Regions from separate parts of the Homo sapiens genome. Here region 1 is linked to region 2. The links come from fine-mapping of genetic effects on gene expression. A gene starts in region 2. The other region holds a variant in brackets. All regions are shown on one strand. Distances are between the middles of the regions. Region 1 overlaps GPX7 (glutathione peroxidase 7). Region 2 holds the start of RAB3B (RAB3B, member RAS oncogene family).

What was found. PIP is the estimated chance that this variant, and not a neighbour inherited with it, causes the effect.
Region 1: its variant is fine-mapped to the expression of RAB3B in sun-exposed skin (GTEx, PIP above 0.99).

Annotation. Positions count from the first base shown.
Region 1 is chr1:52,603,201-52,614,893 of GRCh38, reverse strand. GPX7 (glutathione peroxidase 7) reads right to left here. Exons shown (of 3, transcript NM_015696.5): 2 at 7,949-8,210; 3 at 5,843-6,632. The coding sequence ends at 6,469. Among named protein-coding and RNA genes, the nearest start is that of GPX7, 6.7 kb to the right of the region's middle. The variant A/G (reference allele first, on the strand shown) is at 7,605.
Region 2 is chr1:51,983,104-52,000,246 of GRCh38, reverse strand. RAB3B (RAB3B, member RAS oncogene family) reads left to right here and starts at 9,547. Exons shown (of 5, transcript NM_002867.4): 1 at 9,547-9,695. It also overlaps the pseudogene RN7SL290P. RefSeq lists a silencer at 9,524-9,633.

The DNA of each region.
Region 1 (11,693 bases), 620 kb before region 2:
GCAATCTTCTCAGCTACCCCTTGGCTGGCTCAGCTAGAGAGCTGGGGAATTTCAGGGCTGCTTGCTTTTCACAGGTGTCTCCGTGGTGACCTGTCCTCCAGGCAGCCCCCAAAGCAGAACAGCCTACTCCTTTTTTTTTTTTTTTTTGAGATGGAGCCTCACTCTTGCCCAGGCTGGAGTGCAGTGGTGAAATCTGGGCTCACTGCAACCTCCGCCTCCCAGGTTAAAGCGATTTTCCTGCCTCAGCCTCCCCAGTAGCTGGGACTACAGGCACAAGCCACTGCCCCCGGTTAATATTTGTATTTTTAGTAGAGACAGGGTTTTGCCATGTTGGTCAGGCTGGTCTCGAACTCCTGAACTCAGGTAATCCACCCTCCTCAGCCTTCCAAAGTGTTGGAATTACAGGCGTGAGCCACTGCATTCAGCTGCAGCCTTCTTCTACCAGTGGTTCAATGACTGCCTCTGCCCCAGGGTTTATTTCTGGCCGTCAGATTTGGGACTCTAAGGAAGATCTTCTTATACCAATAGAAGACAGACGCTTCATGCTAGGCCAGGTCACATCATTTCTCACTTAGATTCCACAAGGCCCTGCATGATCTGGCATCTGCCTACTTCTCTGGTCCTTCTCCTTATCATGTGGCTCCAGGCAGCACTAGCTCTATCATATCAGCCTTTTCCTTCCTTTAGGCTTTTGCCCAAGCCACTCTATCTGCTTAGGACTTCCTTACCATTTTTTCCCTAACTCTTATTAAAATTTCAGCTTTCAGCTTTAATGTCATTCCTCAAGGAAGTCTCTGAATCCCACAATAGGTCAAGTGCCACTTTTATACACACTCACAGCTCCCTGTACTTATCATAATCCCTGTGCTTATCATAATTGTAATCACATAATAATCAGAATAACTATTTGTTTAATGTTTATCTTTTCCACTGTTCTCTAAGAGCCATAGCAGCTGGGAACATGCCCATTTTGTTTGCTGATGTACAGTTAGAACTTAGGGAGAACTTGACAGATATGCAGTGCTCAAGAAACATTTGTTGATGAATGAAAGTCCCTGCCAATCACAACATTCCAGGAAGTCCCCTACAGCCTGGCTCAGAGAAACAAATAAGCAATTAGGATGGGACCTCCTTTTCTCTCAGGACCTGGGGCCAGTTGATGTTGAAAGAGAATCGTTTGGGGGTAAGAGGAGAGCTCAGTAAAAGACAAAGGCCTGTATTTTTCCATATTCAGAAATGACCTCTTCCCCAAACTCCTAACTGATGGTTTCTGACTTGCTAATCTACTCTAAACTCAGCAGAGAGCTAAGGGATCAGGTAACTAAAATATTGATTAAGGCTGGGCGTGGTGGCTCACACCTGTAATCCTAGCACTTTAGGAGGCCAAGGAGAGCAGATCACTTGAGCCCAGGAGTTCAAGACCAGCTTAGGCAACATGGCAAAAACCCATCTCTACAAAAAATACAAAAATTAGCCAGACATGGTGGTGAGCATCTGTGGTCCCAGCTACTCAGGAGGCTGAGGTGGGAGGATTGCCTGAGCCTAGGAGGTTGAGGCTGCAGTGAACTGTGATTGCACCACTGCACTCCAGCCTGGGTGAGAGAGTAAGACCTTGTTAAAAAAAAAAAAAAAAAAAAAGAAAATTTGATTAATAACTAAGACATAGCAAATACTTTTAAACTACTAAATCCTAAGATATAACTGAATAAATAAAGTATTTGGCTTGTAAATAAGGTGTTAGAAGATAACTAAGGTGGTGTTAGTAGATAATCAAATATTAACTACTCAAGTGTTATTTGATAACCAAGGGATTAATTTAAAACCAAGATCTTAGCAGATACTGGTTAACCAATGACTAAGGTGACTGTTGATAAGGATTTAAAGTAACTTTTTCCTAGGGGACTCTTGCATGTATTAGAGGGGGGTTGGGAACAGCAGAAGCTGATAAAGTCCACAGAAACACAGGGCTAATTGGGAGCGTAAGGTCCTCAGACGGACTCTAAATTTCTGAGGAAATGGGCTTGCTCATCTTTGGTTTCCAGATAGGGCTTAGGCAGGAGCAGGCATGGAGTTGGTACTCCAAAGGCTTATGACATAATTTAATTTCATCTATTAAGGGCCTAGCACTGTGCTCAGGAGAGGGAAGGGAGGGCAGTTTCTTAAGTGATGGGAATAGAGTGTGATAAGTAAGTGGTGTGTGAAAGAGAAAGCTCCAGGGGCTGCCAAGGCAGAATGGAAGGGAGAGCAGATGTGTTGGGGAAAGATGAGGGTGAATTTAGTTCTGGCCATGTTGAATTGAGGTATCTGTAGAGATGCCCAGGAGGCAGGTGGATGGGAGTCCTGCATGGATATAGAGATTTGGGTGTCAGCAGGGTGTAGATGGTGGTCAAAACCATGGGAAAAAATGAGCTGGCTACAGAACGGTATATGGGGTGAGAAACTAGATCAGACTAGAACCCCATGGAAGACCAACAGGGAAGGGGTGGATAGAGAAGGGAGAGACATTGACACTGAGAACGAAGGAACACTTAGAGAGATGGGGGAAACTAAGAGAAGACAGAGGAACGCCAAGGACCGAGCAAGTGCCAGGGAGAAGAGCAGAGTCTGCAGTGTCACATGCAGCTGAGAGGTCAAGGAAGACAAGGTGAGAGATATTCATTGGCTTTAACGATAAGGCACTAAGTGATGGCCTTGGTGGGCACAGTGAGGGGAGGCATACATACGGGTGGTGGAGACAGTGGGTATGGAGGGAGGAAGGTAGCTGCAGGAGACTGTGGTTCCCAGATGTCCAGTGTGAACATGTGTGCAAGCTGGGCTTCACTGTGTGTGTGTGCATGCACACAAGTACATGCAGAGCTGCAGCTAAGAGGAGGGTGTGTAAGGGCAGCTGAGAGGCCACCATAGGAGGGGCTGTGGTCACCCCATGGACAGCCTTCACTTTACTTTTGTTAGCTTTTGAGAAGCACCATGAAGGGAGACTGTGAAAATCCTAAGCACGGTTTAACCCTTTCATTGTCCAGTGAGAAAACGGAGGACAGGAGAGAGGGAAGAATTTGCTGTGAGTCAGGGGCACAACAGGAACTTGAATCTGAGTCTCCAGACTTCTAGAAGAGTGACCTTAGATAAAGTACACCTGAAATTCTTATTGGCCAATGAATTATCTACCAGTGACTCTGCCCATCACCCCATTTTTTTTATAGTATTTTGGTCTGTTGCTCAGGTTGGAGTGCAGTGGCGTGATCATAGCTCACTGCAGCCTCAAACTCCCAGGCTCCAGTGACTCTCCTCACTCAGCCTCCTGAGTAGCTGGGACTATAGGTGTGCACCATCACACCTGGCTAATTTTTTGATTTTTTGTAGAGATGAAGTCTCACTGTGTTTCCCAGGCTGCACCCCAATTTTTAGCCACCTTTCCACATTTATATAAAGGTGAAATATGGATTTGACATACAAAATTCAAACATTACAGAAACTTAATGAAAATGACTCCTGTTATCCTACCTCAGCCCCTCGCAGACAACCACCATTAAGAGTTTGGTCTATATTTTTCCCTCTCTCTTTCCCTCCCACTTAACATTGTAAATTTTTTAAAAATTTGGGACAGGGTCCACTCCCATTGCCCAGGCTGGAGTACAGTGGCGCAAACACGGCTCACTGCAGCCTCAACCTCCTGGGCTCAAACAATCCTCCTGCCTCAGCCTCCTGAGTAGCTGGGACTACAGGTGTGAGTGACCACGCCTGGCTAATTTTTAAATTTTTTTGCAGAGACACGGTCTTGCCATGTTGCCCAGACTGGTCTTGAACTCCTGGGCTCAAGCAATCCTCCCACCTCTGCCTCCCAAAGTGCTGGGATTACAGGCGTGAGCCACCTAATGCACCCAGCAACATTGTACATTTTTAATAAAAACATTACACTTGTTCATACTGGTTTTTCTGGGTATGTGAATGTGTTCATTCTGTTTTACAACTTATCATTTTTTCACTTTTGGACAACTTTCTATGGTAGCATATGGAGACTTCATTCATTCATTTTAATAACCATATTAGTTTATAATTTGAGGCAAGGTCTCCTCTGTCACCCAGGCTGAGTGCAGTGGCATGGTTACGGTTCGCTGCAGCCTTGACCTCCCAGGCTCTAGCAATTCTCTCACCTCAGCCTCCTGATAGCTGGGACTACAGGCATGCACTGCCATGGCCAGCTAATATTTTTTTGTAGAGGTGGGGTCCCACTATGTTGCATGGTGGCGTGTGCCTGCAGTCCTAGTTACTCAGGAGGCTAAGGATGCAGTAAGCTACGATCGAGCCACTCTTCTTCAGCCTGGGCAACAGAGTGTGACCCTGTCTCAAAACAAAAAGCAAAAACAAAAGGTATGAGCATTTTGTTTTAAAAGATATTGCCAAATCACCCTCCAAACACTTGTGCCAGTTTATCGTACCACAGTTTATGTGAATGCCCATTTCCTCACATCCCTGCCAACCAGGGGTATTATCATTAAAAAAATATCTTTCGGCCGGGAATAGTGGCTCACGCCTGTAATCCCAGCACTTTGGGAGGCCGAGGCGGGCGGATCACTGGGTCAGGAGATTGAGACCATCCTGGCTAACATGATGAAACCCCGCCTCTACTAAAAATACAAAAAAAAAAAAATTAGCTGAGCGTGGTGGTGGGCGCCTGTAGTCCCAGCTACTCGGGAGGCTGAGGCAGAATGGCGTGAACTTGGGAGGCAGAGCTTGCAGTGAGCCGAGACTGTGCCACTGCACTCCAGCCTGGGTGACAGAGCTAGACTCCATCACAAAAACAAAACAAACAAACAAAAAACTTTCCAACTTCAATGAGGCTGGACATCTTTTTGTATCCTTATTACGCATCTATAGTCTTCCGTGAACTATCTATTCATCTCCTTTGCCTATTTGTTATTGAGGTGTACTTTTGGCTAGTGGATTACTCAGTGAATTTTTTTTTTTTTTGAGACAGAGTCTCTCTCTGCTGCCCAGGCTAGAATGCAGTGGCGTTATCTCCGCTCACAGCAACCTCTGCCTCCCGGATTCAAGCGATTCTCCTGCCTCAGCCTCCAGAGTAGCTGGGATTACAGGCACCTGCCATCATGCCCGACTAATTTTTATATTTTTGTAGAGACGGGGTTTCACCATGTTGGCCAGGCTGGTCTCAAACTCCTGACCTCAGGTGATCCACCCGCCTCAGCCTCCCAAAGTGCTGGGATTACAGGCATGAGCCACTGTGCCCGGTCATGCCAGGCTAATTTTTGTATTTTTATTTTTTTATTTTTATTATTATTATTATTATTGAGACGGAGTCTTGCTCTGTCGCCCAGGCTAGAGTGCACAGGCTGGAGTGCAGTGGCACGATCTCTGCTCACTGCAAGCTCCGCCTCCCGGGTTCACACCATTCTCCTGCCTCAGCCTCCAGAGTAGCTGGGACTACAAGCGCCCGCCACCACGCCCGGCTAATTTTTTGTATTTTTAGTAGAGACGGGGTTTCACCGTATTAGCGAGGTTGGTCTCGATCTCCTGACCTCGTGATCCGCCCGCCTTGGCCTCCCAAAGTGCTGGGATTACAAGCGTGAGCCACCGCGCCCAGCCTAATTTTTGTATTTTTAGTAGAGATGGGTTTTCACCATGTTGGCCAGGCTGGTCTCAAACTCTTGACCTCAGGTGATCCACCTACGTTGGCCTCCCAAAGTGCTGGGATGACAGGCGTGAGCTACCGTGCCCGGTCACTGAGTTCTTATTGGGCAATAATGATTGGCTTAACCAAAGGCCTGGCAGCCTTTGTACCAAACTGCTAACACTGTTTACCTCTAGGGAGGGAGACTATGGAAAATGAGGAGGATACTTTCATTTTTATTTTATATCGTGAGGTATTGTTTGGATTGTTACAATGAACTTGCATTTCTTTTGTAATGAAGAAAATAATACAGAGGAAATAACAACAACTAAACCTTTGGCCTGGATTATCATCGGCTGGAAATTCATGTTGGATGCAAGTTTTTATTGATAACAAGTTATTTTTTGGTTTATATGCAAAAAATGTTCATTGAATGCCTCCTATTTGGCTGGCACTGCCTAGGCACTTTCACAGGTATTTCATCCTAATCCTCACAACAGCCCTATGAGGTAATCATTGGTCCCAGTTTACAGAAGCCTTGGGTGGGAGATTATTGCTTGATATACTTCTATTTGCCACACATTTTTGTTGGCAAGACGTTCGTATCGGCTGGTGATTCACTGGTCAAGAGCTCTCATTGGCCAGGAGTTCCTATTTGTTGCTGTAAGATTCAAATAATCAAAATACTAGAATTTTTCCCCCACAAGAATGATGGGACCAATGGCATAAGAGTAAAGGAAGGAGAGTCAGTGGGTCTCTCCCTTTGAAGCACCATTTGAGTTTGCATTGGTCAGCCCCACACAGGTGGGCGGGATGAGGTGGTGGAGGAGGAGACGCGGTGGTTATAAGTCTTCTCGCTTCAGTAGGATGAGCTTCCTCACGAGCGCTGTGATCTGGGGTCTGACCTCCTCCACTGACACAGTTGGGTCCCAAGCCCCTACCACCTTTCCATCTGGGGCTACTAGGTACTTCCAGAAGTTCCAGGTGGGCTCCTTCCCAGAAGTCTCTAGAGAAAAAGGAAGGAGAGCAAAGCGTGCTACCCTGCGTACCCTCTCCTGGGACTTCACTCTCAGTGTCCATCTTTCCCTGGTGGCAGCTAATCCTGATGCCCAGTCCACACCCCAGACCACTCCAACCAGAATCTCTGAGGGTGAGGCTCAGGCATCAGCATTTTTCAAAAGCCCCCTGGGAGATTCCAAAGTGGGGCCGAGGTTGAGAACGACTGCTGTAGGATTCTGTGACGTGCTTGATAAAGTGGTATCAAATCCTCCTTTATTAATGACTTCGAACTACTGAATAGTCTACACCCTATTCTCTAGTTCAGTTTTAATGGTTTCCAAATGTTAGTCCATGGACTGGTTTCATCAGAATCACTGGGGGTCAGGGGAGTGCTTAAAATAAAGATTCTTGGGCCCTGCTTCAGTAGGTCTCAGCCTTGTGCATTTTTAAGAGCTCCCCAGGTGCTTCTAAAAGCAAGGCCGGGTTTGATCTATAACTGTGAGAACTGGGAAGGAACTAATAAAAGAACACAGAGAAAAAAATCAACATTAGGACTGAGCCACAGAGCAAAACACAAACCTGCCGCAGTAAGGGACCTTTTGTTTGCTGCACTCTTGCTTCTCATTTACTCCTCCAGGTGAATGGGTTGCAGGGTGGGGTGGTGGCAAGGGATACAAAGGCCACCAGAAGCACGGAATCAGAAAAGGCAAAAATGGGGCCTCCAGAGGAGAAGGCCTGAGGGAAGAAATGGTCAGAATGGCAAGCTTAGCCCATGAGCCCATTCTGTGGCTCTGAGGCTTCTGCAGCTGGAGAAGGGATCTTGTTCTCAAATACTAAGATCTGGTATTTTAGCTTAGAAGGTCTCCCTCCATGGCCTACAGACTCCGCCACTGACTCAGGGTGAAGATGCCTGTCTACTATCTTGGTCAGCTTTCTCCAAGCAGGTGGCCTCCCCTGTCTATGCCTTGGTTTCTCCATC[A/G]TATGTCCATAAACTCATCTAGTTCACACTGACTTAAATGTCTCCTTCTAGGAGCCCCTGAATGTGAAAACAGGATCCCAGAAAAGTCCAAAAGAGTGACTTCTGAGGGACAAGTGAGAGGCAGCAGGTATGGAGATATTCTTAGGCAGGAATACCCCTCAGCTTCTACCTGCCTCCACTCTCCTCAAAGATTAGTGCTGGAACAAAGCATCAGTCCACCTGAGATGATCAGGAAGGGGAAGGGGCCCCAGGTCACCCAACCAGCCAGTGGCTTCTGCTGCCCAGGGAGCCATGGCCTCAGCCAGCTAAGGGAGGTGTGAGGGGATGAAGAGACCAGGACTTACGGGCCAGGTACTTGAAGGCAGGATGGGCACCAGTACCGGTGACTGCAATCTTGCTAAACATGGGGAATGAGACACTGTAGGTGCGGCGGGCAAAGCTCTCAATCTCCTTGTTGCTGTCAGGCTCCTGTTGGCCAAACTGGTTGCAGGGGAAGGCGAGCACGTTAAAGTGGTGGGGGCCCAGGTCTCGCTGCAGCTGCTGCAGGGCTCGGTAGTGCTGGTCTGTGAAGCCGCACTCGCTGGCCACATTCACCACCAGGGACACCTGTATGACAGAAACAAAACAAAACAAAGCCCAGACAAGCCAGTGAAGAGGCATGAACCTGTACATGCCCTGACACATCCACATATGTGACTCCCTCAACAGTTAATACTGCCTCACACATACAAGAACACTGTGTACACATATGTAAATGTGTGTCCAGTGCTCTCACACATACACAAACACATGCACACAGACAGGCACATATGAAATCAAACATTCAGGAGCTTACAGATGTGTGCACACATACATGAACATCTGTGAACATAAGTATACAACATACATAAATAGGTATGCACATGCACCACGATACAAACATGTTAGCAAACACCACACATGCCCACACACACAGCACATCCACAGACTGGGGCACACATACTGGTGAGCACATACTGAGAACTGATAAGAGGGGGTACAAAGGGAGACCTGGGCTCAATTTTTGGCTCAGTCAGCTAGCACTCGCCACTCTGCACTGTGTCAGTCTCCCTTCTAGAATGTGAACCTACTGAGGGCAGGAGCTATGTCCACTTCATCTCTGGGCCTGGCATATGAAAAAGTCTCAGTAAGTTTCAGATGAATGAGTAAGTGTGCACACAAACACAAACGCCTGCATGGGAACATAGACACAGGTTTTCTTGAGAAAAGAACCCTCATAACTCCAGGGCAATCACCTTTTTGTCCCCCTCCTCTCCAGAGAACTAACACCACTTTTGTTGTTGTTGCTGCTGGAGCAATGGCATAATCATAACAGGACATCCCCCCAACCGTTTGCAGTCTCAAACTTCTGAGCTGAAGTGATCCTCCCACCTCAGCCTCTCAAATAGCTAGGACTACAGGCACGTGCCATCACACCTGGCTAATTTTTTAATTTTTACTTTTGGTAGAGACAGTTCTCGCCATGTTGTCCAGGCTGGACTCAAAAACTCTTAGCCTCAGGCAATCCTACCAGCTAAGCCTCTCAAAGTGCTAGGATTACAGTCATGAACCACCATGCCCAGCCTACCACTTTCTTTTATCATTAGACTAATCCTTAAATTTATTAAAGCCTTTAGGCAATAAATACAAAGCTGGCTAATGGAACTTGATTATAAGACTTTGATTAGAATTTTGGCTCAAATGCTATGTTTTTAGCTTCTAGGTATATATTATTAATGGATTTAAAACCCTAGCCGGTGCCTAGGCAGCCTAGCCCTATCCTCCATAATTGACATTTGGGTCAGATAATTCTTTGTTGTCGGGGGGATGTCCTGTTTATTTATTATCAGATGTTTGGCAGCATCCCTGGCCTCTACCCACTAGATGCCCAGTCTTGACAATCAACAATGTCTCCAGACATTGCCAATTGTGCCCTAAAGGGAATAATCACTCCTAGTTGAGAACTACTGGGCTAGATGATTGAACCACTGAGCTGTACCTCCTGTACCCTACCTCCACCAGGTGAGAAAGGACCCATGCCTGGGGCCACTGGCTATTAGAACAACCTCCTCAATTTGAGGTCAGCATACACCATACTGTGCCTGGAATGGTGAGAAACTGGGACTGTTAACTCCCTTCCTCAGTTAGGGTTCTTCCTTTTTTTCCCCCTGCTGGATCCCTGGGCAATGAGAACATTAAAGCTTTTTTTTTTTTTTTTTTTTTTTTAAAGACAGAGTCTTGCTCTGTTACCAAGGCTGGAGTGCAGTGGCGCGATCTTGGCTCACTGCAACCTCCACCTCCCGGGTTCAAGCAATTCTCCTGCCTCAGCCTCCTGAGTAGCTGGGATTACAGGCACACGCCACCATGCCCAGCTAATTTTTGTATTTTTTAAGTACAGACGGAGTTTCACCATGTTGGCCAGGCTAGCCTCGAACTCCTCACCTTGTGATCCACCCGCCTCAGCCTCCTGAAGTGCTGGGATTACAGGCGTGAGCCACTGCGTCCGGCCAAAGCTTGCTTATTTTTAACTCACAACTTGCATGTCTGCCCGCTCTTTTGGAAGGGGGAAAATCTGGCTTCTAGTTCCATCCCTGAAACCAAAAAGCTTGGTCCTTAGAAACCAAAACACAGACAGACACACCCAAGTACACACAGTTAATTTACATATGTACATATACAAGCACAGACACAGACTCAGATTTGTACACAGAAGAAGTAAACCATTCACAAAGGCACACACTACACATAACCCCACACATTCCCAAGTGGTCACCCATTCATCCATACTGGTCTAAATGACTATGGTCCCAATTAGCCTGAGGGCATCAACCATGTCAATCTTGCTCATGACTATGTCATCAGAGCTGGACCCAGTGTCAGACATGTAGTAGGAGCCAGTAAATGTTTGCAGGTGAAGGAATGAGCATATTGCCCAAGCAGCAAGCCTAGCCTGGGTTAACTCAGCACCAATTACAGCTTTTCTGGACTCCCTGTTCCCTGGTTTACTGCTGAACTTGGCAACTAAGAGCATAGACTCTGGAGCTGGACTGTCTGGGTTCAAATTCTTACTGTCTTACTAGCTGTGTGACCTTGTTCTATTTTTGTCTTAGCACTTACTACTACTAGGAATTACCTCGTGCATTTCTCAGTTCCTTGTTTATTGTCTTTCTTCTCCTTACCCCATGTAAGCTCCATTTAGTGGAAATGTATCTGTTTTGTTCACCACTGTATCCCCAGGGCCTGACCTAGTATCTAGTTAGTATACAGTAGGTGTTCAATAATGAACAACGAATTAATAAGTAGCAGAGCTGGTCAGACGCTAAACCTGGGGCTCTCTGGTGAGCTGCCCTAGAGAGAACAGGAGGCCTGAATTGGAGCGGGCCCTGTTCTTGGTTCTTTGCCCAGAGTTCTAAATGAAGTTCCTGCTGGGATCCACCAAACACAGGTGCAAAGCACTCTACAGTTTACTAAGTGCATCCACGCCTTCATCTGATTTGAAACTCACGACACTCTGGGGGACAATCAAGCAGGGATTACTGTCCCCAAGACTCCCAGCATAATCGAAAATTTCAAGGCTTATAGAGTACTGGTCTTCACTAAAGATGGTGTTGCTCCCAGGAGAAAAATGTTGACATCTATTTTTGTGTGGTTCATCCAAAACTGGACGCTGGCCCACCTGTTCATTAGATTTCAACTCCCCAGCCATTTCACACCAGTCCCCAGGTCCATCCTGAAGAGGTCCACTCTGGGAGTTCTTCACTGCACATAATGTGACATGCAGGCCTCTCAATGTAGTGTTCAAGGTCCCGCCTGCTCCCTTGCCAGTCGTTTCAGCCTCATCTTCCACCACTCGTAGCCTCCAGCTTTAGACTCTTTGAAGCACAACAGCTGGAACTCCTGGCCCCGCGCCCCCCCACCCCCTTCTTGCTGTTTGCTTCTTAGTCTTGCTAAAATCCACTCGTATTCAAAGACTCAACCCAGATACCCTTCCTCTCCGAAGTCTTCTCTGAGCTTAGATTCCCTCTTGGTAATGAGGGGGCAATTAGCCTGGATGACTCTTATGTGTGCCCC
Region 2 (17,143 bases):
AGGGGACGGATAGTGCTAGATTCTGCTTCTGGGCTCTGTGGGAGAGGCCTGACTGAGACAGTAATGGCCTCTATTAAATTTAAATACAATAAATAAAGTATAATAATTATTTCCAGAGCAGTTGCTGCTTTTACCACCATTCCCCTTCTTCTGGCCCCTCTGTCCCCATGACTGTCTCTTTTGTTCTCTTTCACACAGCAAATGACACTACCCAAGTTAGAAAGCTCTCCTGGTTGCCTCAATTTTCTTTTGCCTCATCTACATCCAATCAGTCACCAAATCTTGTTTCTTTCATGTCCCAGTGCATTTCCCAGCTCAGGTCTTATAATCTCTCTTTCTTTTGTTGTTGTCGAGGTGGGGTCTCGCTTTGTTGCCCAGGCTGGTCTCAAACTCATGGATTCAAGCGGTCCTCTGGCCTCAGCCTCCTGAATAGCTGCGACTGTAGGCGCATGCCACTGTTCCTAGCTATTTTGTTTTGTTTTGTTTTTTGGAGGTAGAGTCTTGCTCTGTCGCCCAGGCTGGAGTGCATGATCCTGGCTCACTGCAACCTCTGCCTCCTGGATTCAAGTGATTCTCTTGCCTCAGCCTCCCAAGCAGCTGGGACTACAGGCTTGTGCTACCACGCCCGGCTAATTTTTTGTATTTTTAGTAGAGACGGGTTCTCACCATGTTGCCCAGGCTGGTCTTGAACTCCTGAGCTCAGGAAATCTGCCCACCTCGGCCTCCCAAAGTGCTGGCATCACAGACATGAGCCACTGCACACAGCCAGCTGAGCTATTTTGAAGTCACTCCACCAGCATTTTCTCTGGTGTCCCTGCTCCCAGTATCTTGGAACCTCCAATTCAATCCCTATTGTGCAGGCTATAAGATCTTTTTAAAACACAACTTTTGCCAAGTCTTCCCCTCGGATAAAGGCCTGTAACAGCCCTGCACTGCCCTGATCATGGAATCCATTGTGCTTAGCATGGCCACCGAGGCCTTGCCTGACCTCTGGCTCCGACTTAGCTCTTCTGCCTCACTCATCACTTGCTGCTCTGCCCATTATGCCTATGCTTCTAGAGACTCCAAGTTCTCTGAAGACTTCACATTATTTCACACCCTTTGGGCCTTTGTTCATGCTGGCCCATCTGCCTAGGTGGCTTCTCCATGCATTTAACTCCTACTTTTCCTTGGGGCTCAGTTTAATTAATTCTTAAGTCTACATCCCAGGACCTAGCACGGGGCCAGGTCTAACATCTCAGGTTCCTCTCTGCTGATCTGTCCCACTGTGAGAAAATAGTCATGTCTCACCAAATCTCTTATTGTGGCTAATTTGAGTCCTGGTTTTCCTTGCTTTCAGTAGCTAAGAAACCATGGGCCAGTTACTACTTGCTCACATCTAAGATGGCATGAATCAGTCCCAACTTCACAGGTTCATTGTGAAAGTTAAATGAGATGGCAGATATGAGAAGAAATCCTTTGTTAATACTTATGTACTTATTTATTCAGCATCAGTATAAGTATTTAATATTTATATACTTATCCCTGAGCTCTTCTAAGAATGGTTTAGGAGGCCCTGTGTTGGGTACTAGTATGGCCTTTCCTCTTGTGGAGTACAGATTAGTGGATCTTATAGTCTACTGTCCTGCACCAGACACTGAGTTCCTTGGGTCAGGGACCATATGTTATTCGTCTCTGCACAGCAGGTGTTCGGGAGATATTTGCTAGCTGGGTGAGTGAACCAGCGATTTATTGAATAAATGACTGAATGGCATTCTAGGTAGAGAGAAAAAAACAGATGCAAATTCACAAAGATGTTATGGAGCAGGCCACATTCAAAGAACTGCAAGTAGTTTAATGTCGTGGGAGCTCAGGGTGTGAAGGGGGTGTGACCAGCAGTGAGGCTGGAGGGTAGATGAGACCAGATCACCAGGGGCCATTAGGCTTATTAAACAGATAAGCTTCTGAGTAGGGCAATGGGAGGTTTCAAGCTGGCTTTAGGAAGCGTCCTATGTTGCAGTGTGGAGTGCGGACTAACGGCAGATTGGAGGCTATTGCAGGAGCAGGATAGTGAGGAGACTGTGGCTATGGAATGAAGAGTTCCTGGGAAGTAGAATGGGCTGGGCTTGGTGAAGCATTGGCAGGGTTGGGGTGGGGAGGGAGGGGTGGTGGGTGGTACCGGGGTTCTGACCATTCACATGTTGAATGTTTCCCCTGTGTGTGTCTCAGATTCCACCCCTGCTGACAGTGTGTGCCCTGGCGATGGAGCAGTGTCCTTGTTGCAGATTTGAACCACTTTCACCTCGTAAACAGCAGCTGGTGAGAGGAATGGACTTGCACATTCATTCGTTTTACAAATGAAGAAACTGAAGCACAGAGAAGGAAGGAATGATTTGTGCAGGAGGTGGTATTTGAGATACTCATCATTTTCTCTCATTACCCACATTTGTTTCTACTCCTGTAGTAGTTTGGTTAAAGGCAATAGACTCCTTGTTCCTTATATTGTGCCTTTTTGTGATGTGACTTCGCTCTTCTTCCCAATCAAAAGTGGAATTTATTTCTTCCACCCCTTAAATCTGGACTGGGCTTGTGACTTGATTTGGTTAATATAATGCAGCATATGTGAGGTCGTGCGATTTCTAAGGCTTGGTCTTTAGAGATTGTGTCTTCTGCCTTTATACTCTTGGAATGCTGCCTTGAGACCACCATGTAAGCTGGTCTAGCCTACTAGTGGATGAGAGGTCACATGCAGAAAAACTGGGGTGCCAGTCCTCAGCTGGCACTGATTGCCAGACTTATGAATAAGGACATCTTAGACCTTCCAGGCCAGCAGCCCTTCCAACTGAATGCAGCTCCTGAATGATCGCAGGTGAAACCAGCAAAGGAGGCAGTTAGCCACTCACAGAATTATGAGAAATAGTGAATTATTGCTGTTTTAAGCCACTAAACTTTTGGGAGTGTTTTTTAAATGCAGCAATAGATAACAGAAACAACTTCTTTGCTTCCTGTTTCAGTAAATGGTTTTATTATCTACCTGGTTGTTTAGGCTGGTGCCCTTTTCTTTATATCTCACATTTAATCTGTCACCAAGTCCAGGGAACTTTACCTCCTAAATATATATCAAATCCCTCTGCTTTCTACCTTTCCCATTGCTATGACATTAGCTCAGGTCCTAGTCATCTCTTATCTAGATTATTACAGCAATCTCTATTGTTTTCTCTGTCTCCTATCTCTCTGCTCCCTATCCTTCCCATCCAATCTGTTGTATTCCCCTGCCACAGGCAGAGCTATCTTTCTCACAAGAATATGTAACCATGTTACTCCATTGCTTAAAATCTTTTTGTTTGCAAGGTAAGCTCCCAAATCCCTAATATGATGTACAAGGCCTTGGACCATCTGGCCTCTTCTTCTCTTTCCTCCCCGATCTTCCATCACTCCTCTCATTGAATCCTACATTTCTCAGCTGTTTCACAGGTACCTGCTTCAGCTACCCTATTGCATGGAGCAATCTATTGAATGGGTTGGATGGAAATGTCTGACCTGTCAACACATCTGAGTTCCTAAGCTGGCCATGAGGGACTCACACTAGGGTAAATATTCACCTTGTGAAAATTTGAACATTCCAAACGACATCCGCTTGTGCCATTTTCTAAGCCACTGATTATCATTCAATAAAAAGCTGACACCTGCGATCTTAGCTTCTTGGAAGGCTGAGGTGGGAGGATTGCTTGAGACCAGGAGTTCAAGATCAGACTGGGCAATATAGGAAGACCGCCCCCCCCCCCAACCCTAATAACAACAACAAAAGAGCATCAATTCTATACTTCTTATAAAACTAGGAGTTGGAGAAGGCTGATTACTCTGGCAACTACAAAAGGAAATTTTGTTGTAGGACTCTATTATTTATTTATTTATTTATTTTTGAGACAGGGTCTCTCTCTGTCACCCAGGCTGGTATGCAGTGGCATGCTCTTGGCTCACTGCAATCTCTGCCTCCCAGGTTCAAATGATTCTCTTGCTTCAGCCTCCCGAGTAGCTGGGACTACAGGCGTGCACTACCATGCCCAGCTAATTTTTTGTATTTTTAGTAGAGATGGGGTTTCACTATGTTGGCCAGGCTGGTCTCGAACTCCTGACCTCAGGTGATCTGCCCGCCTCGGCCTCCCAAAGTGCTGGGATTACAGGCATGAGCTACCGTGCCTGGCCTATTTATTTATTTTTTAAATATAGAGACAGGGTCTCTCCATGTTGCCCCAGCTGGAGTACAGTGGTTATTCACAGGCATGATCCCACTACTGATCAGCACAGAAGTTCTGGCCTGCTGTTTCTGACCTTGGCTGGTTCACTCCTCCTTGGGCAACCTGGTAGCCCCACACTCCTGGGAATTCACCATATTGATGCTGAACTTAGTGAGAACACCTGTTCTGCATAACACACATAACAGCCCAGAACTCCTGAGCTGAAATCATCCACCTGCCTCAGCCTCCCGAGTAGCTGGGACTACAGGCAGGTGCCATCTTGCCCTTGCAGGACTCTTAATCACAATGATGTTCACTGGGCAATCAAAATATAATTTTAGAGTCTAATAGAAAACGCCCTGTCCTTGGAGTCAGACAGACCTGCTATCTGGCTCTGCCACTTACCAGTTGTATGACCTTGGGCAAGTCACTTAAACTTTCTCAATTCTCTTTCCTTGTCTATAAAAAAGGGATGATAATCTATAACTTGCATAATTATATTGAGGATTAAATGAGATAAAAGATGTGAATAATCTTAGTGTAATTTAAAGATTCAATGAATATAATTGTTAACTAATCTGAGCCAAGACAAAAGGTAGAATTTTGTCTTCATTCAGGGGCCAGGTTCAGTGGCTCATGCCTGTAATTCCAGCACTTTGGGAGGCTGAGGCGGGGCAGATCACCTGAGGTCAGGAGTTTGAGACCAGCCTGACCAACATGGAGAAACCCCGTCTCTACTAAAAATACAAAATTAGCTGGGCGTGGTGGTACATGCCTGTAATCCCAGCAACTCAGGAGGCTGAGGCAGCCAAATCATTTGAACCCGGGAGGCGTAGGTTGCAGTGAGCCAAGATCACGCCATTGCACTCCAGCCTGGGCAACAAGAGCAAAACTCTATCTCAAAAAAAAAAAAAAAAGAATTTTGTTTTCCTTCCCATTCTTCCTTGGGCATTTGGATCTGGAAGTGAAGACAGTCCAGTATAATTTGATTTGTGTTGTTCTTCCCTCAGGTGGTTACCTTAGTCAATAAGAAGGTAGCTTATGAGGGCATAAATGATGCAACCCAAATGTCAGATGTGGCCTCTCTGCCTCCTTTTTTTTTTTTTTTTTTTTTGAGATGGAGTCTCGCTCTGTCGCCGAGGCTGGAGTGCAGTGGCGCGATCTCAACTCACTGCAAGCTCCGCCTCCAGGGTTCACGCCATTCTCCTGCCTCAGCCTCCCGAGTACCTGGGACTAAAGGCGCCCACCACGACGCCCGGCTAATTTTTTGTGTTTTTAGTAGAGACAGGGTTTCACCACGTTAGCCAGGATGGTCTTGATCTCCTGACTTCGTGATCCGCCCGCCTCGGCCTCCCAAAGTGCTGGGATTACAGGCATGAGCCACCGCCCCCGGCTTTTTTTTTTTTTTATTTGAGACCAAGTCTGACTCTGTCACCCAGGCAAGAGTGCAGTGGTGCGATCTTGGTTCACTGCAACCTCCGCCTCCCGGGTTCAAGCGATTCTCCTGCCTCAGCCTCCCAAGTAGCTGGGATTACAGTCACCTGCCACCATGCTGGCTAATTTTTTTGTATTTTTAGTAGAGATGGGGTTTCACAATGTTGGCCAGGCTGGTCTTGAACTCCTCACCTCAGGTGATCTGCCGACCTTGGCCTCCCAAAGTGCTGGGATTACAGGTGTGAGCCGCTGTCTGGCTGCCTCTCTGCCTCTTCAAGATCCAAATGCAATGGGCTTGAACCTCAATATTCACATTTCCCAACTCATGTAAGTGCAAAGTCCTACACAAGTTTTTGCAAGTTCCACAAGGGCTTGTGGTCTCACAGTTACCTCTGCTTCCAGTCTCCTTTTTCAACTGAGACCTAACAAAGCACATTGCTCAACTCCCTACTCATGTACTCTCACAATTCCCCTCTCTCAAAAAGCGTTCCTGGGTGTAATAGCCCTTCCTGAAGTCTTGAGAGTCACATAGGATGGTCACGTCCTAGTGTAACAAACAACTTATCCCATTTTAGGTATCCCACTGCTGAAACACTCTTGTCAACTACCATGGGAGAGTTTCTTCTGACTCTTTACCTATGTAGCACCTATCCTTACATTGATTTTCTTACTCATCTTTTTCCTTTTCCCCTCCGATCTCTATTAACTTGCCCTCCCATTTTGTCAAGTGAATTCCAAATTTGCCTTCCCCCAACCCTCCCACCCCCACCTTTTTTTTTTTTTTTTTTTTGAGATGGAGTTTCACTCTTGTTTCCCAGGCTGGAGTGCAACGGCGCAATCTCGGCTCATCGCAACCTCTGCCTCCTGCTACCCCTAATTTTGTTTAGATGGAGTCTCACTCTGTTGCCCATGCTGGAGTGCAGTAGCACAATCTCGGCTCACTGCAACCTCCGCCTCCCAGGTTCAAGTGATTCTCCCGCCTCAGCCTCCCGAGTAGGTGGGAGTACAGGCGCCCACCACCACGCCCGGCTAATTTTTGTATTTTTAGTGGAGACAGAGTTTTACCATGTTGGCCAGGCTGGTCTCGAACTCCTGGCCTCAGGTGGTCCCAAAGTGCTGGGATTGCAGACGTGGGCCATCATGCCCCACCTACCCCTACTCCCTTTTTAAACATAGAGAGCAATTTCTTCTCCCAAAGTTACGTATTCACTCTCATCAATTGAGGCCCCAAGCAGGACAAAAGGACTTTCTGTGCATTGGGATCTGTCATTCCTGGAAGGCAGTTGTGGTTTAAAAATAGCACTTTTTTTTTTCTGTTATACGAAGCACAGTGTTTCCTATTTGTTGAATGCTTACTGTATGCCTACCACTCTATCAAGTCCTCTCCAGTAGCTTGTGTTCTCATTTGATCTTCCCAACAACTCTGAGAAGCAGCTCTTATTATTGCTCTTTCTACAAATAAGGAAGGGGTGTGCGTGCGAGAGAAATTAGGTAATTGGCATAAGATCACACAGCAAGCAAGGACTGAAGACCAGGTCTGCCTGGCCCCAAGCCTGTGTGTGCCCTTTCTAATTTACTATACCGCCTTTCAGAGGAGGGAGAAGGAGAAAGCAACCAGAAGAACTGAGGCTACATAAAAGCAATACCATCTGTTCTCATATTGTCTCACAACTTTAAAAGGATGGCTCTATATGCTGTCTCATTATTCCTAGGAAGAAAGAATAATCATTATCATCTCGTCTATTTTGAAATGAGGGAAGTAGGGCCTTGTGAGAGAAAGAGAGTGAGGGAGCAGTTCAGCGTAGCATGTTTGATTTTGCTATTACAGAGGTACCAGCAGTGGGTGATTAAGAGCTCAAGAGTGACCATGGGAGCTGGTGGCCAAGGTGATGTGGAGGACAAGGACTGAGGGACCAGGAAATCTCATAGCTACTGAAGTCACCAGGAGGATGGCAGGACAGGGGCTAGTGAGGATGACCATGAGCCAGGGGCTGCAATCTGTAATGCATAAGGAGCAATTGGGGGGTCAGTGATGAGGAGGGGTTGAGGGGGGTATGGCTGGAGAGCACAGAAGAAAGAATTTTTGCACAAGGGTGGAAATGGCCATGCCATCCCCACATCCTAGTTTTATAGTATATGGGGAGTGGAAAAATGAGAAGCCTTCTAGCAGAGGGCAGCAAAGGAGGCAGTACCTGGAGGAGGCTCAGGCAAAGAAGTCACCTGAGTACTCTGAAGAAGCAGAGGGTATAGCAGAGTTTGTTGACAAAAGAACAGGATTCTAGAAGGCACAGAGGAAAGAGCTGCCAGTGTGATGGGCAGTGTGAGTGAAAGGGCTGGGCAAGAAGCTCAGAAGAGTAAGCGTCTGAGGCAGAGGCCAGACAAGCAGAGGAGCTGTCAGCTTGGGTGGTTCCTAGGCTGGAGATGTACACTGTAGACAGGGTCATAATGGAACTTGGGGGGAAAATGGTTTTGGTATTTGACTCAGACCTCTAAGATCTGAGATGGGGGAGAAGTGTGGGGAAAGACAATGATTCTAGAGCAAGCCTTCAGCTGGCTCCTGTGACCTCAGGAAGACTGGAAGTCCATATCAGGATTTGAGGGTGGGGTATTTATTGCCTCCTCTATCTGCCTCCTCTAGTGGAAGTGGGACTTCCTAGGGCCAGGCCAGGCAAGAACATTTTTCTACTCCTGTTGACAGCCTCCTGGTAATGGGAAACCATTGAGAGGTTTTTGTTTGTTTGTTTGTTTGGTTTTTGATGGAGTCTGGCTTTGTTGCCCAGGCTGGAGTGCACTGCTGGAGTGCAGTGATCTCGGCTCACTGCAACCTCTGCCTCCTGGGTGCAAGCAATTCTGCCTCAGCCTCCCAAGTAGCTGGGACTACAGGCATGCACCACCATGCCCGGCTAATTTTTGTATTTTTAGTAGAGACAGGGTTTCACCATGTTGGCCAGGTTGGTCTCGAACTCCTGACCTCAAGTGATCTGCCCACTTTGGCCTTCCAAAGTGCTGGGATTACAGGCGTCAGCCACTGTGCCTGGCCGAGAGTTTTCTTAAACAAGGTTGATGGTAACATGGTGACATTTTTTAAAGGGTTGCTCGGGCTTGTGTCAAAATGATTTTGGTATCTGACTCAGAATGAATGGGACCAGGAAGTCTCACAGCTACCGAAGTCACCAGGAGTATGGCAGAACAGGGGCTAGTTAGGATGACCATGGGCCAGGGGCTGCAATCTTTAATGCATAAGGAACAATTGGGTGTCAGTGATGAGGAGGGGTGGAGGGTGGTATGACTGGAGACCACAGGAGAAAGAATTTTTGTACAAGGGTGGAAATGGCCATGCTGACACCACGTCCTGGTTTTATAGGGTGAATTGGAGAGTGAAGGCAGGAATTAGGAAGCTGTTGCATTAGTCCAAGCAAGAAGTGATGATGCTGGAGTCAGAACAAGGGCAATGGAGACACAGAGGAAGGGCAGGGATATGTTAAGGCGGTGGGATGTGGGGTGTGAAGGAAACACAGATAGGGTAGAGGACAGCGTCCAGGTTTCTGGCTTGGTTTCCGCTTGTAGTCAGCCTCCCTCTCTGGGCTTTTGTGAAGACGGAGCCATAGAACGGACCGGACCAGAAAGCAGTTTGGAAATGGCAAAACTGCTACCCATCATCAGCTACATTATCATCAAAGCTCTCTAATTACCCTAGTAAGTTCAGTCAATGGAACGAGGCATGACAATTAAGATAAATCACGAGAGTCACCCAGACATGGGGGACCTGGAGGTCCTGAGTCACCTCGGATTACACCTGCTAGGAGTTGAGGGCCGGGGCGGGGCGAACACAGACTCCGCCCTTGGGCGGGGCCTGGATGCGGCCGGAGCGGAGCAGTGCTGGAGCGGGAGCCTCAGCCCTCAGGCGCCACTGTGAGGACCTGACCGGACCAGACCATCCCGCAGCGCCCCGCCCCGGCCCCCTCCGCGCCCTCCCGACGCCAGGTCCTGCCGTCCCGCCGACCGTCCGGGAGCGAACCCGTCGTCCCGCACTCGGAGTCCGCGGTAAGGGGCGCGGCCCCGGCAGCCCGCCCGCGGAGGATCAGGGACCGATCCCCGGCGCGGGGCGCTGGGCACCGAGAGCGGGCGCCGAGAAGGAGCGCGGGGCAGCGGAAGGAAGCCGGGGGAGGAGCGAGGGAGGGGGCTCCGCGGCGGCAGAGGTGGGGCTCACCTAGGGAGGGGGCGCCGAGGGGGTCTCCCAGACGTTGGGGGCAGCCGGGGGAGCTCCAAGGGCGGGAGGGGAGCAAGAAAGACGGCGCTGGGGCTGGGAGGAGAGATGGGGGGCAACTGGAGGGCAGTGAGGGATCGCTGGGGGAAACGGGGGCGTGGGGGGCGGGGGAGCTGCGAGGAGGGCGGAGTGGGGCTGTGCGGAAAGGTGGTACCGGGCAGCCGAGGGGCAGCGAAGGGGGCGGTGAAGGGAGCGGACTGAGGGGAGCTAGAGCGGGGGTGCGGGGGGAGGCATGGAGGTGAGGAGCTGAGGGGAGGGGACTGGCTGGGCGGGGGTCGTTTGGAGCTGGAGGGGACTGAGGTGCCGAGGGCAAGGGGCGCTGGGCAGCTGGGGAGTGTCTGGTTGGGAGAGGGTCGGGGGTGGGGATGTGGGTATGGATAGCTGGGAAGGAGAAAGGCAGCAGGGCAGTGTCTGGTCGAAAGAGGGTCATTTATGGGGGATGTGGGTATGGATAGCTGGGGTCGGAGGTTGAGCCCGGCTGGGGACCGGCGTGGGGGTAACTGTAGATGGAAGACGAGGGGTGGGGCTTGGGGGCGGGAAGCTTGGGAGAATGGAAGGGTGAGAGGCCAGGTTGGGTCTACCCTGCTGCAGAGGAAGGGGGCAGGGAGCCGGTGGAGACACAGGGAAGTGGCCTTGGAAATGGACACAGGGGCCTACATTCTGGTCAGGAGTGGAGAGGAGGCTCTGGAATAGAGTAGGGTCTGGCGGCTGCAAGTGGAGGAATCGTGGGAGAACTTGGAGTGTATAGATAGGGTGGTGGGGCGCTGGGTCAGCCTGGGGAGGAGGCCAGGTGTGGGTCGTGGTGTAAGGGTGGAAAGGTAATGGGGGCTGGAGTGGTGTCCACGCACTAGCGGTGTCTCGGCCACTCAGGAGTCCAAGGAGGGGACCCAGGCACTGGACCTTGTTACACGGGCACCGGGGATCACAGAAAATAAGAGAATCGTGGACAGAAAAAGTCATCCAACTCTGTTCTGTAGTCCAAGCATGGAAGCAACTTTGGGGAGGGCAGGGCAGCAGCCTTTGGAAGCTAAGAGAGATGTGGAGGAGGTGGGAGAAAGATGGGCCCTCAAAACACACACACACACACACACACACACACACACACACACACACACACACAAAACAAGATGGGCCCTCTTCCCCCGGCTTCCTGGAATCCAGATGGAAAGGGGTGGGAGACAGTAAAAGGAGAGGATGTGTGTGTGTGTGTGTGTGTGTGTGTGTGCGCGCGCACAGGTGGGTGTCCACCTGTTCTGTGCCTATAAACAGAGGAAGACAATGGAAGCCGTGAAAGGCCCTATCTATAGAAGTGGAAAGCCCTGGTGCCCTGTGGGAGCCAGAGAAGAAGCATTTTGGGGGAGGTGGGTGGGTTGGGGAAGCCTTCCTGGTCATGAAGGATTTAGCTAGCAGTGGAGGAAAGTGTGTTCCTATCAGAGGAAACCGTATGGGAAAAGGCAAAAATCTAAAAGCATCTCCAGTCCAAGAAATAGATCTTCAGTTTCTTAAAGATTATGACATGAAGGGAGGCATCAGTAACCTATACAAAATATTTAAATAGATTTCCCCTCTAAGCTTGAAGCTCCTAGGGTTTCTCTCCATCTCCCTAAAGTATAGCACAGGTCCTGGTGCATAGTAGGTGCTTGGTGAATGTTGATTGAATGAATAATTGGTGCTCCTGCCTCAATTTCTTCATCCATTCCCAAGAATTGTTGTGAGAATCAAATAGGATAATGTGGGTGAAAAGAACTTTGTAAACTGTAAAACAATGTACAAAGAGAGAGGCCACTGATGTTATTCTGCAGGTGTTCCTGTTTTGTCAGTGGACACACCCATGGCTATCTCTTTCCAATCTGGAGGAGGAAGGAAATGAATATCAAGCATCTGTTGGTGCAAGATGGAATGCTTTGAAAGCATCTTGTAGAATGCTAGACATTTAGTAGGTGCTCAATAAATGGTAGCTATTGTGATATTGTTTCTGTGGCTCTAGGAGACCTGGGAAAACAATGAGAAGGTGGTGATGGGTCAGCAGTGGGGAATGGTCTAAAGACAGATTGAATTAGAAAAGTAGAGTATGGCTTAAAGGAGGATGAGGTCCACATTTGCCCAACTCCCTTCTTATTCTCACTGAAATGCTCCAAGTAGGAAGACAGGGAATTACATTATTGAGCCCCTGCTATATTGCATATACAGTTGACCTTTGAACAGCATGGGTTTGAACTGTGTAGGTTCACTTATACCTGAATTTTTTTTTTCAACCAAACACTGATTAAAAAAAATACCATGGTGGGTCAAGCGCAGTGGCTCAAACCTGGAATCCCAGCTATTTGGGAGGCTGAGGTAGGAGGATCGCTTGAGCCCAGGAACCTGAAGCTACAGTGAGTTATGATCAGGCCACTGTACTCCATCCTGGGAAACAGAGTGACACCCATCTCTTAAAAAAGAAGAAAAAGAGAAGAAAATACAGTAGTGAAGGGAGGTGAAGTCTGTATATTCAGAGGACCAACTTTTAGTCTAGGTGGGTTCCACTGGGCCAACTGTGGTTCTTGAGTAGGCGTGGATTTCGGTATATATGGGGGTCCTGGAGCCAATCCCTTGCCTATACCAAGAAATTACTGTACTATTCTAGATGTATAACCCACATTACCTATAATTTTCCCAACAACACTTGTTTTATGAATGAGGAAACTGTCTTAATCATGTAACATTTCTTGCCAAGGTCTCATAGGTAATAAATGATAGACCTGGAAACTGAATCTAGTTTGTTTGATTTGGAGCTCCAAACTATTTCCACTACACAGGATGACTTGCTAGAAGAAACCATGAAGCACAGAGACAAACAAACAAACAAAATAAGGGGTTAATAAAACACCCTCCCATATACAGGTTTTAATTCTTGCAACAGTTTTGCCAGGAAGCCATTTTATGAGCTCCTTTTATAGATAAGGAAACTGAGGCCAGGGGTGTGATTTGCCTAAGTTTACAGGATCACTGAAAGAGCCAGGGCTTATCTTTCAAATGCCAGGTCTCTTGGACTCAGTCTCATGTTCTTTGCAACAAAAGGTAAGTTCCTTCATTCACTTCTTCACTCCATTTATTGAGCTGATCTCTTCTCGCTGGATTTTAGGGCTCTCTCCTCCTCCTCCCCGCTCTTTCCTGGCTGAAGTTGGCTTCTTCCTTAGGTGCTTATTTCTGCCGCCTATCAGACTGAAAGGGTTGTTTTTCACAGCCACCCTTTGAGGAGTCATTTCTTTCCCCCAGCCTGGGACAGGGACGACTTCCCAGATGGTCCCTGGGCCTTCATCTGTATTGCTTGTCACGGAGATAGCTCTATCATTTTATGTGACTGTCACAAAATAGAGGAAAGATTTGATTGATGCTTATCTTACAAATGCAATTCTGCATGCACCACTGTGCATGACCTGTCTGCTTAGATCTGCCTCAGGCAGCTGCCTGCTGGGATGCTTTTTGCCTGTCTTCCAAATGTCTGAGTAGCCCCTGGCCGCCCCCTCCTAAGAAGATCCCCTTGGGGGCTTCCATCTGAATGAGCCTTCCAACTGAACTCAGCTCTCTGCCTCTCCCCGTTCTCACACCACCTACTGGGAAAGCCATGCTGTGTGTGCATAAGCAGATGTTAACAGTGTGGTATGGCAAGTACAGTACGGTAGCAGGACACTCAGGATGTTGGGTATGCTTCTTTTTTTTAATTTTTATTTTTAGAGATAGGGTCTCACTCTGTCACCCAGGTTGGGATACAGTGGTGCAATCATAGCTCACTCTAACCTCGAACCTCTGGACTCAAGTGATTTTCCAGCCTCAGCCTCCCAAGTACCGAGGACTACAGGTGCACACCACCACATCCGACTAATTTAAACTTTTTTTGGCTGGGCGCGGTGGCTCACGCCTGTAATCCCAGCACTTTGGGAGGCCGAGGCAGGCGGATCACAAGGTCAGGAGACCGAGACCATCCTGGCTAACACGGTGAAACCCCATCTCTAGTAAAAATACAAAAAATTAGCCGGGTATGGTGGCGGGTGTCTGTAGTCCCAGCTACTCGGGAGGCTGAGGCAGGAGAATGGCGTGAACCCGGGAGGCGGAGCTTGCAGTGAGCTGAGATCGCGCCACTGCCCTCCAGCCTGGGCGACAGAGTGAGACTCTGCCTCAAAAAAAAAAAAAAAAAAAAAATTCGTAGAAATGGAATCTCACTATGTTTCCCAGGCTGGTTTTGAACTCCTGGCCTCAAGTGATTTTCCCATTTTGGCATCCCAAAGTGTTGGGATTACAGGCATGAGCCACCATGCCCAGCCAGGATGCTTCTTTATTCACCCTAAAATTGTTGTGGTTTTCGTTTTCCTTAATCCCGTCAAACCTGGAAGCCATTAGGTAACAGAAGTTCCATTCATGACCCTCCAACTGACTTGCTGTGTGAGCTTGGACAAATCACTTGTCTTTGCAGAGCCTCAATTTTTTTTTTTTTTTTTTACCTGTAAGATAAACGGAGGTAGATCAGGAACTGAAACAATTTTTTACTCTTGCCATCACTTCCTAGTCTCCTATCTGTGGCAGTCACAGCTAATAAAGGCAGGCAAATTTCTCACTGATTCTACACGAGGCTACATGTATTTTTCTCAGCACAGTGTATGAAACATACTTATATACGTTCTCTTATTTAAAATTCACAGCACCTCGTGAAGTAAGTATTATTGTCAGATGAGGACACTGAGGCATAGAATTTAAGTAACTAGGCCAAGTTTACACACTGAGTTACTGGGAAAGCTGGGCCCAGTAGCCAGGCTTTTTGTTACAATAAAAAGCTGCTACTCCAAAGTCCCCTCTAATTCTAGCAGTTTAAGAGTGTGAAGCTGGGCTACATCAGAAAAGTGAAAACCAGTAATCTGACATTTACACTGATAGTCTGGCACTTGAAAAATGCTCTATATGTGTTTCTTGAAAGACATAACACCCTCTAAGGATTTACTGTAGGTCTAGCGTTGACCAGATGTAAGGATGGATAAAGCCCCCTTGAATCCAGAAGAGAGAGCAAACAGTTAATTGTAAAACAGGCCCAAATAATGGAGCCACAATCAGGGAGAGGGCAGTTGAACAAGATTTGCCTGCAGAAGTGAATTAAAGGGGCCAGTGAAATAATATGTATTCAGTACCTCCATGGGCCGAGAAACTGTGTCAGATTGTTTACGTATAGTACTACTCTTTCTATTTGTACCAAGCTCTGTGAAGTAGGTGGTATTTTCTCTATTTTAAGGTAAAAGTGCTGTGGCTTAGAGAGGCAATATGACTTACCTAAGAATTCATCTGAGGGTAGAGCATTGATTTTAAACTTTTTCATAACACTGCAGGGTACTAAGTCTAGTCTCGGCTGTTAGCTATGAGATTTGGGCAAATCCTTTTAATTTCTCATTTTCAGTTTCCTTCTTGATCAAATGGAAATAATAATCCACGTCTTTCCAGCTTTATTTCCCAGGTTTATTTAGAGATAAAAGAAGATAAAGGATATGAAATTGTGGTAAAGATCACATTTATGTTTTAGTAGTGACTCTTTGACCAGCAATTCCACTTCAAGGAATCTCTCTCAAGGAAGTAATTAGGAAAATGTACAAAAATTTATGTAAAGAAATGTTCACTGCAGTTTCATGTATAATAATTAAGAGTAGAAAAACAACTTAAAAACAACTTCCTAAAGAGAGTGACAACATTAAATAATTGATCTGGCTGGGCCAACATGGTGAAACCCCATCTCTATTAAAAATACAAAAATTAGCCGGTGTGATGGTGAGCACCTGTAGTCCCAGCTACTTGGGAGGCTGAGGCAGGAGAATCGCTTGAACCCAGGAGTTGGAGGTTGCAGTGAGCCAAGATTGTGCCATTGCACTCCAGCCAGGGTGACAGAGCAAGACTCTGTCTCAAAAAAAAAAAAAAAAAAAAAGAATTGGTCTTATGACACATCTATAGGATGGAATATAATGTAGTCAACTGAAATGATGTTTTTTTAGAGTTTTCAAAGTCTCGTTCATGCTTTTTTTTTTTTTTTTTTTTTTTTTTTTTTTTTTAATTAGAGAGTCTCCACTGTTGCCTGGGCTGGAGTGCAGTGGCACAATCTCCGCTCACTGTAACCTCCGCCTGCCAGGTTCAAGTGATTCTCCTGCCTCAGCCTCCAGAGTAGCTGGGATTACAGGCAGCCACCACCACGCCCAGCGAATTTTTTGTATTTTTAGTAGAGATGGGGTTTCACCATGTTGGCCAGACTGGTCTCGAACTCCTGACCTCGTGATTCACCCGCCTCAGCCTCCCAAAGTGCTGGGATTACAGGCATGAGCCACCGCGCCCAGCCCTTACTTTCTTTTCTTTTTTTTTGAGACAGTGTCTTGCTCTGTCACCCAGACTGGAGTGTAGTTGTGCAATCTTGACTCACTGCAGCCTCCGCCTCCTGGGTTCAAGCAATTTTTGTGCTTCAGCCTCCTGACTAGCTGGAATTACAGGTGTGCGCCACCACACCTGGCTAATTTTTATATTTTTAGTAGAGACTGGATTTCACCATGTTGGCCAGGCTGATCTTAAACTCCTGAGCTCAAATGATCCGCCTGCCTCGGCCTCACAAAGTCCTGGGATTATGGGCCTGAGCCACGGCACCTGGCCTCAAAATCTCATATTTTTGTAGTACTTTTGGTACTACTAAATTTTTGTAGTATTTAAGTACAGTCTTGCATTGCTAATGACAAGGATATGTTCTGAGGGATGTGTCATTAGCCGATTTCATAGTTGTATGAACATCATAGAGTATACTTACACAAACCTATATGGTATATGGTATAGCTTACTATACACATAGTCTATATGGAATAGATAGCCTATTGCTCCTAGGCTGCAAACCTGTACAGCATGTTACTGTATTGAATGTAGCAGGCAATTGTAACACAGTGGTAAGTATTTGTGTAGCTAAACACATCTAAACATAGAAAAGGTACAGTAAAAATATGATGGTTTTTTTTTTTGAGACCAAGTCTGGCTCTATCACCCAAGCTGGAATGCAGTGGTGCAATCTCAGCTCACTGCAACCTCAGCCTCCCGAGTAGCTGGGATTACAGGTATCTGCCACCATGCCTGGCTAATTTTTTGTATTTTAATAGGGATGGAGTTTCATCATGTTGGCCAGGCTGGTCTCTATCTCCTGACCTCAAGTGATCCACCCACCTTGGCCTCCCAAAGTGCT